Linked DNA regions of Homo sapiens. The protein of the gene in region 4 interacts with the protein of the main gene of each other region in a pairwise test. Each region holds a gene or a part of one and is shown on either strand. Other genes may lie near its edges.

Region 1 (3,500 bases), on a different chromosome or scaffold from region 4:
CATTAAATGACCTGGTCATGGTCACACAGTAAATGAGAGTGTCAAAATATCACCTAACGTTCTAATCCTAACCTGCTAGAAAGTAAACTCTAGAAGGGCAGGCATTGCCTCTCTTGGGTTCACTGCCAGCACCTAGCACAGCACCATGCACACCACTGGGGTTAATGCTAGTATCAGTACACATGCTCAGAATAAATATTATGAGAGTTAACTGCACTTCACAAAGAAGCCACGTAAGTAATAAATGGACAGTAGCTCCATCTCATATCACGAACAAGGCTAACTTGTAATGAAGAACTGCAGCAGCCCCCATTTGTAAACTAGAAGTGTTTTCCTTTTAGAATAACGAAATATTTGAAGAAAAACAGCCACCCATTTCCAACTGTTACATGGTAGAATGAATCAATCTACCATTATTTTTTTGTTAGTAGACTATAACTACAAGATAGTATTCTAGGATATCTGGTCAATAATACAACCAAGTTAATGATTAGTCCACCCTTCTATATAAATGTTGATTTATGATTACTATATTCATCGTCTAGGCTGAGATAATTTTGAAAATAAAGGGGTGCTATTAATATTTATTCACAGGAATAATGGCAACAGTCTTAGGCAAACCAGAACCTACGAGTCAACTTAGTTCAAAGTAAAAATATTCTCCTTTTCTTCTTTCTTATGGCACCTGCAAGAGATCCCCTGCATAGCTTGGCCTACATTTCTTGTTTCTTGCTTAAATTTCCTGACAAAGTGATGTTAAAAATAGAGACAAATTACTAAATAAATACATGCATATGCGTCATCTAAGGATACACAGCAATTTTCAGATATAGCCCATATTAGGATTTCAAAAGCAGTTGATTATAAAATTGACTTGCAACAATAAAAGCTCAACTATAGGATACGTCAATAACACAGACTTGTCTTGTCAATGTTTAAGATGACTACTTCCAATTTAACCTCCTTCCCATTATTGAACTGTAGCAGTCACCATCCCATAGTCCCATTTTTCAATCACTGACTTTTATATGCCTTATCACAAATCCTGAGGGACTCTACAGAAAAAGCCGAAGCTTCTTCCCACCAGCAATCAAAACCATACAAACCTCTGTCAGCTGCTTCAGTTGGTTTTTGTTTGTACTTAATTCTTCTGCTAGGATATTCTTTTTCACTTGTAGTTCACAGATTTCCTTTCTTAATGGATTCACTAGCTCATAGAAGCGAACCTTGAAAAAAATTAAATTAATAAGCAGTCTTAAATCCAAATTACAATTAAAATTTGTAATTTGTAGTGCTCTCACTTATCAGTAATAAAGATAAATATTTACAAAACTACAACAAGACAGTCATTAATGGACCCTAGCCACTAATACTTTCTATCAAGCCTTAATGTTCAATTAACTTCCCTCAAGGGCCAGATGATTTATAACCTCTTACCTTTGACAGTATTTCCTCCCTTCTACTGACACTCCATTACTACTCATCTACTACTGCTCACTCCACACTAGGTGCTTGTAAACTTCTGGAACATATCACAAATGTTCAGGAGTCTTGCTCTTGCTGTTTCTTCTGCTAGAGAAGTTCTTCCCCCATATAAATGCATGGCTCATGCCTTGTCTCCCTATAGGTCTCTGACCAAATATTACCTTGTTAGTAAAGCCCTCCCTGATTTCTTTACCTAATTTTAAGTAGCACTCCCTATTTTTCACCCCTGCTCTTTTCTCTGTAGCACCTTTGACAAACAGATATTCTACATATTTAATTTTTAAGTTATTGCCTGTGTTGCTCCACTTTCACAACCTGAGGGCAGGGATTTTTGTCTGGTTTATACACCGCTGTATTTCCAATGCCTAAATATATGATAAGCACTCAATAAATACTTGATGAAGAGGTAAAGTGTATTCTTTATTTTCATCCCAGGCTCTTGGCAAAGCTTTATTTACTGCTGTCCCTACAGTGGAAGTCTAATCAGAATGAATCAAGAGGTATCTTTCACATCATTACTTCCATTTAGTTCAGGTCTCTCTTTCCACTCATACTTGTCTCAGAGAAATTTTCCTACCCTAGCTCAGTAAAGTGTTCCATCTGACAAGGTCCCATAAAACTAAGAAATCATCACAGCAAATTAGGAGAGAGTAATTAGGGGCTATCATATAGGCATGCAATCTGAAACTCCTTAACATATGACGGTATTACAAGAATACCATTATTTGGTAAGAGGCAAATCTTAATACTAGCCCTCAACAAAAAGAATCTGCATATAATTAATTAGTTAAGGATAATATTGTCTGTGAAAACAAAAGATGTAAGAAGGAATATTAAGAAAACAAACAGCAAAAATATGTGTAACTGCCACCAGTGTGATACTTTATATCTACTGTAAATGAAGCCTCAAAAACAGAATTTGAGATATTTAATTTGTTTTGGACAGTATACTTTGGACAGAAAAGCTGTATTTGAGCCTTTTAAAAAAAAAAAAAAAACAGCTGAACAAAAAAGTAACTTCATTTTATCAGACATCACTAATCTGCAAATCTTTTCCCAATGAGAACCAAGAATAGCAACCACCACTCCAGCAAAAACAATAGACAACATTTTTATGTGTTTACTATCTTCTAAGCACTATGCTCACAAGCATTTTACATACATAGTTATAGTCTTTACAATTATCCCCAATAGAAACGCACCGTTACTATTAACCCTTTTTAGGGATTAAAAAATTCAAGCCTCTCAGGGTAAAATGACATCTACATATTAAAAAGCAGCAGTTCTCAACATATGGTTTTGGGACTCCTGGACTCTGCCCCACTCGCCACTCTGAGATCCTTTCAGGGAATTCACAAGATCAAAACGACTTTCCTAGTAATTATTAAGATTTTTTTTCCCCGTTTCATTCTCATTCTCTCATGACTGTTCAGTGGAGTTTGCCAGTGGCTACATGACATATGACATTATCACTCTTAAGGCCAATGGAATTGTGTGCTTATTCTTGTGTTTAAAAAAGTTGTTAGTTTAAAATTCTAGTATGGTAAATATTAATAGATACAGCCCATATAAACAAACACTCATTGGGGTCCTCAATAACTTTTAGAATGTAAATGAATGCTGACACCAAAATATTTGAGACCACTGCCATAGATTAATCCTAGGTGTTCTAGATTTGTGTAACCAGCACTGCAATCAAGATCTTGCGCCAATCTCTCACCACAAAGTTCTTTCTCATCCTATCCCTTTATAACCACGCTGACTCCTCTCTCCCACTATCCCCAACCAACCCCTGGCAACAACTACTCTGTTGTTTATAATTTTTCATTTTGAGAATGTAAGAAACCACCAGTTTACGATAATTCATTTCTATGGACTATGCAGTCATTAACTTCAGAAACCTATTTATTGCTTGACTTTGGAGATCAATGGTCATGATCCTTTAAAATTTGGATCTCAACACCATTCACCATCCATAGCCATAAAATAATGTATCAATTGGGTACTTCAAAAGT
Region 2 (3,952 bases), on a different chromosome or scaffold from region 4:
CTTAGGTATGTGCCCAAAATATTTAAAAACAGATACTCAAACAAATACTTATATGTGAATGTTCATAGCAGCACTATTCGCAACAGCTAAAAGGTAGAAACAACCCAAAGGTCCATCAATGGATAAATGGATAAACAAATTGGGATATAAATATACATATGAAGATGTATATTATTCAGCTATAAAAAGAAATGAAATACTGATACACGCTACAATGTAGAGGAACTTCAAAAAACATTATACTAAGTGAAGAAAGCCAGACACAAAATGTTGTATACATGTTGTATGATGCCATTTCTATGAAATATCCAGAATAGGTAAACCCAGAGACAGAAAGCAGATTGGTAGTTGCTAAGGGCTGGGTGGAAGGGAAAATGGGGAGTAACTGCTTAATGGTTATGGGGTCTTCTTTTGGGGTGATAAAAATGTTTTGGAACAAGACAAAATTGATGGTTGAACAATACCGTGAATACACTAAATGCCATTTAATTGCTCACTTTAAAATTATTAATTTTATGTTATATGATTTTCACTTCGATTAAAAAAGAAAGGAAGGAAGGTATTCATAGAGATTGAGAGGCTAAAAAGTTATTAATCCCCAGATTGTCTTCAGGTACAGAGAAATAACAGAGGATTAAAAACGCTGGCAGTGTGAATGAGGAAACTGTTAAAGTTCAAACCAGGGATCATGTTTTGTTACAAAAATGATCTGACATTTGATCCTTCTAGATCAGATCTGTTAGGAAAAACCTCAGAATCATCATGCAGCTGAGGTGTATGCAGGTGGCAAAAATAAACAAAAAGCTCCCAGAATTATCCAGCTCATATCCATATCTTACAACATGACTCTTAAAAACCTGTCCTCAGGTTAATGGAGGAACAAATTTGTATTTTCCTTTGTACTTTCTATCTCCTCATCCTTATGTTTCCATCCACCCTCTTAATGTCTCCCCTTATCCCATGGGTGAATGGATGGTTTCAGTCCACAGAACAGAAATAGTCAAGCTCATCTGTATACCATATCCTATATATTACCTTCAATGAAGAAATTGGACCTAATGATATTAGATTATCTTAGGGTTTAAGGGTCATGTCCTTTTACCAAAAGAGTAAATGGAATTGCCCTTCACACTTTAGGGCCCAATTTCCAACAACTAACCTCATTCTGTCCTCCACTTTTAATCACCTCACATTCTCATTGCATTTTCAGAATCACTGCCATTCTACAAAAAGCATTTATCTACTCTACCCACCTGCCTCAGGCAAGATAACATTTTCTTTTTCTTTCTTTCTTTGAGACAGAGTCTCACTCTGTCACCCAGGCTGGAGTGCAGTGGTGCGATCTTGGCTCACTGCAACCTCCACCTCCCGGGTTCAAGTGATTCTCCTGCCTCAGCCTCCTGAGTAGCTGGGATTACAGGCTCGCGCCACCATGCCCAGCTAATTTTTGTATTTTTAGTAGAGATGGGGTTTCACCATGTTGGTCAGGCTGGTCTCGAACTCCTGACCTCGTGATCCACCCACCTCGACCTCCCAAAGTGCTGGGATTACAGGCATGAGCCACGGCGCCCGGCCAAGACACCACTTTCTTAAACCTTGAAAGAATGACTTTTTTTTTTTTAAATAGGTATGGAAGGAAAGTGTGATTTGAGACAACTCTAGGGTCTTAAATCCCAGAATTTATAATAGATATCTCCCTGAAGTTAAAACATAAGCCTTTTTGCTGCAATGGAAGCAAGCCACTTAAGGTCAGAAAGGTACTGCTTTACTTTTCCGCATTTCCAAGGTGAGGTCTTCCTCTAAAGGAAGATTAGCTCTTGGCAATCTGGGAGTTGGCTGAACTGGTCAGAAAGCAAAAGGATCACACAGTTTGAGGAAGAGGAGTGGTGGTAAAAATCCCTAATGTCACAGTCTCCTCTGTGTCTAGAGCACAATGTTCATGATACAAATGAGTTAGCTTTCTGGCAGAAAAGAAAGAAGGTGGGTGAGAAGCCAGGTCTTTGATCTGCATCTATATACATCATCAGGTTCATGTTTGAGTTTATATACCCCAGGCCCAGACACAGCTTCCCTGGTTCTAAATCTCCTGTAAAGAGCCCCAGGCTACTCCCTGTTCACAGGTTATAAACTGAGAGAAACAAAGGAAAAAACAGGGGACTCACAGGAGAAGCTGGAAAGAATTGCAGTAAGCTCTTTGAACTTTCCAGAGTCTAGAATGCTCTCCACTTAGAAAGGGAATCCCTTTCATTTTTTTCTAGCCATCCCCAGTGACTTAGGCTCTAATTTAGTCCCAGTATAAGAGAGAGAACACCAACACCAAGAACTGGAGAGGAGACATGATCTTGATTGCCTAGAAAAACTTTTATCCTTCATGTCCAAATTCAAGACAAAATATTAATCTATTCCTAGACCTAGGTTTCCCATCTTCTTCTTTACCACCAAGAGTCCCAAGTTTCACCTAAACTACAGTCATATTTTCACTATCTCCAGATAAGGAGTGCTCATCTAATTTTCTGTAAGTCACCAAAAAATGCAAAACGTCTTTGGAGAGGTAGGGAGAAGGAAGACTGAAACTGGTCATTGGAGATCCTTATAAGGGGGTAGGAAAAGAGAAGGAGAAATACATTAAGGACACTGTAATTATGGCCACATTCAGCTGTTTAATCAGTGATTAACACTGCCTGGGGTGATAAATACTTTACTCAATTATAAACTAAGCAAGCAGACAGGTTGACGGAAAAAAAAACTTACCCTGCTAAGTCCTCAGCTTCCTTCCTTCTCTCTTTCCTCCAAGTGAAATGAGTGCTTGATCTCTTCAGATCTAGGTTGTGGCTTACTTGCAGCTGTCCCTTCATATCACTTTCCTTTGCAAACTGCTGAAATGCTGAGTCTCAGTGATTAAGTGTGCCCTGCCAACCAGACAGACAAGGCTGAATTCTCCCTAATGAGGCAAAGAGGGATCTGTCCCCCTGCCTGAGGGCTTCTCTCTAACCTTTGTTCTCTGCCAAGGGGGCTCAGGACTGTCAACACTCCCAAGTGTTAGCCAAGTAAAGGCCAGGCAGGCTGACAAAAAATGAAACCTGCTGCTTCCTAGACTTCTCTCACTCAAGGCAATATTTCTGTTCTCAGTTTACAGCTTCAGAAGAAAACCCTTTGGATTAGTGCAGAAGTCAATATTTGATTGGAAAGGGTAAGCACCTTTCCAACCAAGTGGGAGGAACCAGAGGACCCTCTGGAGTTCTGTTTGTTGATCTAGACACAGGATGAGTTCCCCCAGGCCTGGTGTCCTTTTTCAGCATAACAAACATTGTTCAAACAAAACTCAACAATGTCCAATCTTGGATTAAGTAGAAGGGAGAAAATAAATGGCCATTTAATGGTACAGAATGAAATCAGTTGTAGGGGAAACATGCAGAATTAACTTGTAAAATTCACTTTCCCTGAAAGAAGGGTAAGATAACTCTCTGAGTGAGAGAGTCATCAGGAGCACTTTACCTGTATTAAGAGAGGAATAAATGCTTCTGGGATATTAAACAAAACCAAAATACTAGTTAATGACTAAAAATACATACTATTTCTAGGAAAAGAAAATAGAAAAGAATCAGCTCAACCATTCTCTTATCCTCCTTGTAATTGCAGCTGATCCAGGAAATTCAATTCCACAGTCCTAGCTTCTTTCTACTTACAGCTAGCCTATCTGAAGTTGTTAGGGCAGTGGTCCTAAAAGACTGCAAGATCTTTCTTACCCTCAAAAAATTTTTTTAAAATTTTTAAATAAAAAAGTTCTGACTTTCTGCTTATATCTGACCCCAGCTCTCACTTACCTGCTTCTTTGAACATCATCAAACTGGGGAACAGAATCACTCGCAATGAGGTCCCGGAATGTGGCAAATCAAATCCACACAGGAACCCCAAACTGTAAAAAGTACAAACTACATGCAGGGAAGGTGGA
Region 3 (3,500 bases), on a different chromosome or scaffold from region 4:
GAGGTCGTGCCATCTTAGTATCTCTGATGAACGGCACTAGACTTCCAAAGGTGTCTTGGTATCTCTGAGTCCATCTGCTGTGATGGTTCATCCCTGACAAGTTGCCCTAATCTCCCATGACATCACAATTGACTTCAAGGCAATAGCATGGAGTGAGTTTTAAGAAACCAGAGCAGATTAGTACATTGCAGGCAAAGAGCCTTGGGATGGGTTTGCAGAGGCCCCAGGTCTCTGGAGGAAGGAGGTCAAAGGCCTCTGTCCACCCTGAAAGGCCAGAGCTGTGGGGGTGGTGGGAGGGAAGGTCCTCAAAGAGACAGGAAGCCCTGCCCACTCCTGCCATGGACCAAAGCCAAACCCAGCTCCAGCTGGCTCACCTAAAGGGCCCTTATGAATCCCCTCTGCTTCCTCACCACCACAATCCCCTTATTTTATACTGTGTTCAATGAACAAAAAACCAGTTTCTCCATTATTGATGAGATCTGTATAATATGTGTGTGGGCCCAGAAAAGATCTAGAAGGAGATACATAAAATTGTTGTTAATTTTTTTTCTCATCAAGCCCAGAGCTGTCAACAAGAGCCGTTTTTGCACAGTAACACCCTGAGTTGATCAAAATTCTAGTCAAAGGCCAAGGAACTTGATGTTTTGTGCGTTCACACCTCTGAGGTTATCATGTTGGGTTTGGCCAAATCCCAAATTCAGAGCCAGGGCCTGACCCCACGACCATGTGGGTGCATCTGGGAGTGAGAAGCCAGAGGTAGGGCTGCAGGAATAAAAGTGTCCACCTTGGCTTTGCGAGGGGAGCATGGGGAATGTGTTGTTCTGGGCTCTACGCTGGAAAGTCCCCGGGCTGCCCAAGCGCATGGCATGTAGGGCGAGAGCCGCTGCCGCCAGGCCAAGCTAGGCCTTTCCAGGCGTGGCTGCTAAATGCGGGACCTGACTTCGGCCTCCACCATGCAGAGCTCCTGCTGCCACCGTGGGCAGTGGCCCTGCAGTGGTTGTGGTGAAGGGGGTGGGGGCAGCTATATTGAAGTGGGTGGAGGGAGCTATATTGCTGAGACGGAGCCTCCCTGAATCTGGCATGTGTCCTGCCTCTTCTTTTAGCACTCACTGGGCACTTGCAGAAACTCCAGGAGGCCCTGCCCTAGAGGAGCCCACAGTCTGCGAGGCGAACAGAACACAATTAACAGACAGATGTATGAAGTGTGCAGAGGCCAGTGCTGGGCTCTCACCGACGGCCTTTGAGGCAGGGGCTGCTGAGAGGTCCATGTGCACCCTGATGTGCAAAACTAAGCGGCAGCCCCACGTGTCCAATACAGACCAAGCTCCCAGCCACCCCTCAGCACCCCAGCCTCCACCCAGGGAAGGAGGCCACCACCATGGTAACAACCAGGTTCTTGGCTGCTTCTGAGCCTACCATGGAGACAGGCAGGCTCTCAGGAACCATGGCTGGATGAACACTTCCATGAAGCCGGCGAGTGCTAACGGCCGGGGAGGTGTTCAGCATTTACTCTCAGTGTGGAGATCTGGGACGCTTCTCAGAGGTGGCGGTGCATGAGTAGGGCTCTGAGGGATGGGCAGGTGGGACGCCATGAGAAGGGCACCTCAGGCAGAGGGCGTGGCCCAAACAAAGGCCTGGAGAGGGGACCATGCGGGGCCATGCTGCTTACCGTTCTGCTTGGCTGTCTCGTAGTCTTCCTTGCACACCAGCCGCCCGTCCTCCATGAGGTAGAATTCGTCCCCCGTGGCCAGCTGCCGGTTGCAGATGATGCAAGCAAAGCAGTGCAGGTGGTAGACAAAGTCCTGGGCCTTGCGGACCACCTGGGTTGGGGGGATACCCTGCTGGCAGGCCGTGCATTTTGTGCCGAAGCGCCTGTCAGGGCAGCAGGAAAGGATTAGGGCACACAGGGAGCAAGGGATCTGGCTTCCCCCAACTTCCTGGAGCAGCCTCCCTCCTACCCCACCACTCCGGGACTCCATGAGCCTCACCCCCCAGTCACCCAGAGCTTACCGTCTGGTCCTCTCTGCCTCCATCTAGCTTCATTGCTTTGTGCCTGGGACTCTTCAACCACCAAAGAAGGGACTGATGAGAACTAGAGTCTCCCTCAGGTACCTTTTCCAAAGCTGATGCCCCCGGATTCCAGCTGCCCGATTAACACCCATCAATTCACAGGGGGAGCAGGTGGACTTTCTAAGTCCCTCAAAGCAGGCTGTCTCCCCCTCCACCTCCCAGCTTCCTCACCCTTATGGTTGATCCCAGAGGACATCCTCACAGGGAACTGTGTGTGCCACAGGCTGTGTGTAGAAAGCACCCAGCAACACCTTTTCACACACTCCCAGGGAGGAGGCCCTGCCTGGCCAGGGGACAGCACGCTGCAGAGAAAATGCACTTTGTCAGCAGAGCAAGGCTGTCCTGACAGCTGTTCTCTCTCCTTTGCCTCCATTTCTCCCCTCACCTCCATTCTGCACACACAAAGCCCTCCAAGCCTACCTCCATCCCCTTCCTATGCACGCACACAGCCTGGGGCATGGTGGTTTGGGAAGGGCCCAGGAAGCTGCACTTTTCAGCCCCTACAGCATTCGGGACAAGGAGTCTGCAGATTACAGTTTGGAAAATGCTGCTTCAGACCTCTCCTTGGTCAGCACCTTTCCAGAACAACACCGAGGCAAAAGGAAGCTACCTGCTGCCACCAAGGCAGCTTCTACCAAGCAAGCCACCCCCTGCCAAGGCCGGGAAGGAAGGAGAAATTGACACTTAAAAGTATCGTCCAGTGGGGTTGTTTCCACTCCCTTTCCCCATTCTGGTCATAGAGATCAACAGAGGCACACCGATGGTCATAGGAGACGAGGGAAATTTGGGGGCCGACAGGGACAGTGAAGGAGGGTGCGTGGCTGCAGGTGAGCCTTCCCCGCTTCAGGAGGGAGGCGGGAGGCATTGGGAAAGCAAGGGCAGAGTTTAAAACAGCAATCAACCTAATTATTCATGACATTTCACACAGCAGAACTTTATCTTCTTCAGGATGAAAGACTTCGCCTAATGGATCTGGGGAAGGTTTGATTTTAATGGTCCTTTTAACTAATGCTTATAGGCAGCCTGATTTCCCCTGAAAGGACAGTACATATTTCATCCACATTAATACCAAATAAATTAATTATGGTCATGGCTATCATGATGAATACCAGATTAATGCAGAATGATAGGTCTGTTATGCAGTAATGATACCTGCTGAGGGGGTTATGGGGGCCCGGAATAGGCATGGCCAGCAGCAGCCTCAGACGCCCCCCACCAGGGACACAGCATCCCAGAGAAAAGTGGGGGTTCTCTAAGTCTGCATGGGTAATCCTGAAAGACCCAGAGTGTACTTCAGGGAACACTCTTCTGAGATGGGTATAAGAAGGGTGTTGGGGTGTGAGGGGCTGAGAGGTGGTGGCTTGGGAGGACCCCAGGCTTCTGAATTCCTGGAATGCCTCTTGGTTTTCAGAGAGATGGGGCCCATTTAG
Region 4 (3,500 bases):
ATAATAATAATAATAATGGCTGGACACAGTGGCTCACACCTGTAATCCTAGCACTTTGGGAGGCTGAGGCAGGTGGACCACTTGAGGTCAGGAGTTTGAGACCAGCCTGGCCAACTTGGTGAAACCACTTCTCTATTAAAAATACAAAAAATTAGCCAGGTGTAGTGGCGCATGCCTGTAATCCCAGCTACTGGGGAGGCTGAGACAGGAGAATTGCTTGAACCCAGGAGGCAGAGGTTGCAGTGAGCCGAGATCGTGCCATTGCACTCCAGCCTGGGTGACAGAGTGAGACTTCGTCTCAAAAAAATAAATAAAAAAAAGTAGGCCGGGCGCAGTGGCTCACACCTGTAATCCCAGCACTTTGGGAGGCTGAGGCGGGCGGATCACGAGTTCAGGAGATCAAGACCATCCTGGATAACATGGTGAAACCCCGTCTCTACTAAAAATACAAAAAAATAGCCGGGCGTGGTAGCAGGTGCCTGTAGTCCCAGCTACTCGGGAGGGTGAGGCAGGAGAATGGCGTGAACCTGGGAGGCGGAATTTGCAGTGAGCCGAGATCGCGCCACTGCACTCCAGCCTGGGCAACAGAGTGAGACTCCGTCTCAAAAAAAAAAAATAAAATAAATAAATAAATAAATAAATAAATAAGGCTGGGCACGGTGGCTCATGCCTGTAATCCCAGCACTTTGGGAGGACGAGGCAGGAGGATCTCCTGAGGTCGGAAGTTCAAGACCAGCCTGGCCAACAAGGTAAAACCCTGTCTCTACTAAAAAAAATTAGCCAGGCGTGGTGACGGGTACCTGTAATCCCAGCTACGCGGGAGGCTGAGGCAGAAGAATCGTTTGAACCTGGGAGGTGGAGGTTGCAGTGAACCAAGATTGAGTCATTGTACTCCAGCCTGAGCAACAAGAGCAAAACTCCATTTCAAAAATAAATAATAAATAAAAATAAATAGAGTGATTAAAAGAACTATGTAGGTTTCAAAAAGCAGTCCTTAACCCTTCTCCCCTGCAATAACTCTAAGTCACATGTATGACATGCTTGCTCATGGGATCACCTAGATATTGATCAAAAAAAAAAAGAGCTAAACTTATATAAGGAAGAAAAACATCATGATAGTTTATAATTGCCCAGGATTCATAATTGCAGCGTTCAAGCTGTGATTTCACCCCTTTCTCTCCCACTCAGGAAAGCAGGTGAATGAGAGTGATGTTATTGCAGGGATAATTTTGAAACCACTCAAATTTATATGAAAAACTAAACCTTTCTCAAACCTTGTTACTTTTTTTTTTTTTTTTTTTGAAACGGAGTCTCTCTCTGCCACCCAGGCTGGAGTGCAGTGGCAGGATCTCTGCTCACTGCAACCTCCACCTTCTAGGTTCAAGTGATTCTTCTGCCTCAGCCCCCTGAGTAGCTGGGACTACAGGTGTGTGCCACTGTGCCCGGCTAATTTTTTTATTTTTAGTAGAGACGGGGTTTCACCATGTTGGCCAGCCTGGTCTCGAACTCCTGATCTCAAGTGATCTGCCTGCCTCGGCCTCCCAAATTGCTGGGATTACAGGAGACTGAGATGGGCAGATCACTTGAGGCCAGGAGTTTGAGACCAGCATGGCCAACACGGCAAAAACCCGTCTCTACTAAAAATACAAAAATTAGCCAGGTGTGGTGGTGGGCACCTGTAGTTCCAGCTACTTGAACCTGGGAGGCGGACAATGCAGTGAGCCCAGATCGCGCCACTGCACTCCAGCCTAGGTGACAGAGTGAGACTCTATCTCTAAATAAATAAATAAAAATAACTGACTGTGACCTTTATAATTGAGAAAGGCTGGTTTGGAAGGCTGTGACAATTGTCTTCAAGTCTCTGAAGGTAGATATTCTCTCTGTAAGGTCCCCAGGGCACAGCCAGGACCCTTATGGATGGAGGGGCAGTTGCAGGACCACAGATCCAGCTTCCTGTCCGCAGTAAGAGGAGGCATTGCCTAAAAGTCAGAGCCATGCCACAGTGAGATGGACTGTCCTGCAGGATGCTTAGCATGTATCATTTATTTACTCACTCCTGCTCAGTGCCCAGCACTGGGGCTAGAACTGGATGCAGCAACTCCAGGACCTCCCAGTCTATTAGACAGAGGAGTCAATATACACCTGGAACACAGCACTGCTGAGGACAAGGATCAAAGGTGCTGGGGACTTGGGAAGGGGAGTCTAACCTAGAAAGGAGGCTAACAATCAGGGAAGGTGCCCTGGAGGATTTGGCACCTGAGTCGAAAGTTGAAGGATGAATTAAAAATTGCCCAGAGAAGCTGGGAGGAGCTGCAGAGGGGTGAGTCATGCAGGAGAGGTCAAGGGAGCAGCAAGAGAGAACAGTGAGTGAGGCCAGAGGGAGAAGCAGGGGCTTGGATCTTAGAATGAGACATCCGAGTTTTATGCTGGAGACAATGGGGAAACCAGTGAAGGGTTATGCCAGGAGAGGGACCTGGTCAGAAAGTATTTCAGAAGGCTGGGCGCTGTGGCTCATGCCTGTAATCCTAGCATTTTGGGAGGCTGTGGTGGGCGGATCACCTGAGGTCAGTAGTTCAAGACCAGCCTGGCCAACATGGTGAAACCCTGCCTCTACTAAAAATACAAAAATTAGCCAGGCGTGGTGGCTCGCGCCTGTAATCCCAGCTACTTGGGAGGCTGAGGCAGGAGAATCGCTTGAACCCAGGAAGCAGAGGTTGTAGTGAGTAGAGATTGTGCCATTGCACTCCAGCTTGGGCAACAAGAGAGAAACTCCATCTCAAAAAAAAAAAAAAAAAAAAGTATATGTCTGGGCTCAGTGAATTTATGATACCTTGGAGAGGAGATGGCAAGTAGGCACTTGGAGGTAGTCTTTGGCTCAGGGAAGTGGTCTGGTTCGGGATGGAGATTTAGCTGTGAGAGACAGAAGCCTGCCTCTGGAATAAGAAGAGAAGCTGTGGAACTCTGGGGATGGCGGCGAGGCGGGTGTGGGCACTAGAAAAGCGGGTGGAGGCAAGGTGGGGGGTCACGCCTGGGCTGAATGACAGGCGTCTGTGCTGGATGCTTCCCGTGCAGCCCTCCAGACCCACTCCCCACCCTTCCTGCCCTGCTGCGCTCCGGGAGGCTTCCTTGCCCTCAGCCTTCCACATGGAGCCGGCCCAGGGGAGCATCAGGCGGGGAGATGGGGAGGGAGAAGGGCAGGGCTGCGGCTTTATTCCCCAGTTCTCCTCCTATGGGGTCTCTTCAGTCAGCTGTGTCGCTTGACAGAAGGTCACAGCTCCGCTGAGGGCCCTGTCCACACACTCCAACAGACCCCTCGGGGTTCCTGGCCTGGGAAAACTGCACTCCGCTGTCCCTGGCAGTCTCCCTCCGCTCCTCCAGCACCTGGGCGAATGGTCCCTTTATTAAGCTCTCCACAAACCACCCAATCCGCTCCATCTCTCCCCCACCCCGGGTCACTGCCGATACATATTCTCAGACGCTGCGATGTCTGCCCTTCAGAA

The links. Proteins that work in one complex are often made in the same cells at the same time.
Region 1: the proteins of DNAJB13 (region 4) and PIBF1 interact in a two-hybrid assay, tested with the Homo sapiens proteins (one large-scale study listed by BioGRID).
Region 2: the proteins of DNAJB13 (region 4) and MSS51 interact in binary tests that used the Homo sapiens proteins (3 or more experiments, as listed by UniProt).
Region 3: the proteins of DNAJB13 (region 4) and LHX4 interact in binary tests that used the Homo sapiens proteins (3 or more experiments, as listed by UniProt).

The regions. Positions count from the first base shown.
Region 1 is NC_000013.11:72,795,633-72,799,132, reverse strand, and holds part of PIBF1 (progesterone-induced-blocking factor 1), read right to left. Parts: intron 1,227-3,500; coding exon 1,107-1,226; intron 1-1,106.
Region 2 is NC_000010.11:73,430,762-73,434,713, forward strand, and holds the start of MSS51 (putative protein MSS51 homolog, mitochondrial), read right to left. Parts: upstream 2,801-3,952; 5' UTR 2,752-2,800; exon of another isoform or gene 1-2,751.
Region 3 is NC_000001.11:180,264,764-180,268,263, reverse strand, and holds part of LHX4 (LIM/homeobox protein Lhx4), read right to left. Parts: intron 2,062-3,500; exon of another isoform or gene 2,034-2,061; coding exon of another isoform or gene 2,011-2,033; intron 1,873-2,010; coding exon 1,670-1,872; intron 1-1,669. UniProt on the Homo sapiens protein: May play a critical role in the development of respiratory control mechanisms and in the normal growth and maturation of the lung. Binds preferentially to methylated DNA.
Region 4 is NC_000011.10:73,954,026-73,957,525, forward strand, and holds part of DNAJB13 (dnaJ homolog subfamily B member 13), read left to right. Parts: intron 1-1,887; exon of another isoform or gene 1,888-2,007; coding exon of another isoform or gene 2,008-2,177; intron 2,178-3,500. UniProt on the Homo sapiens protein: Functions as part of axonemal radial spoke complexes that play an important part in the motility of sperm and cilia.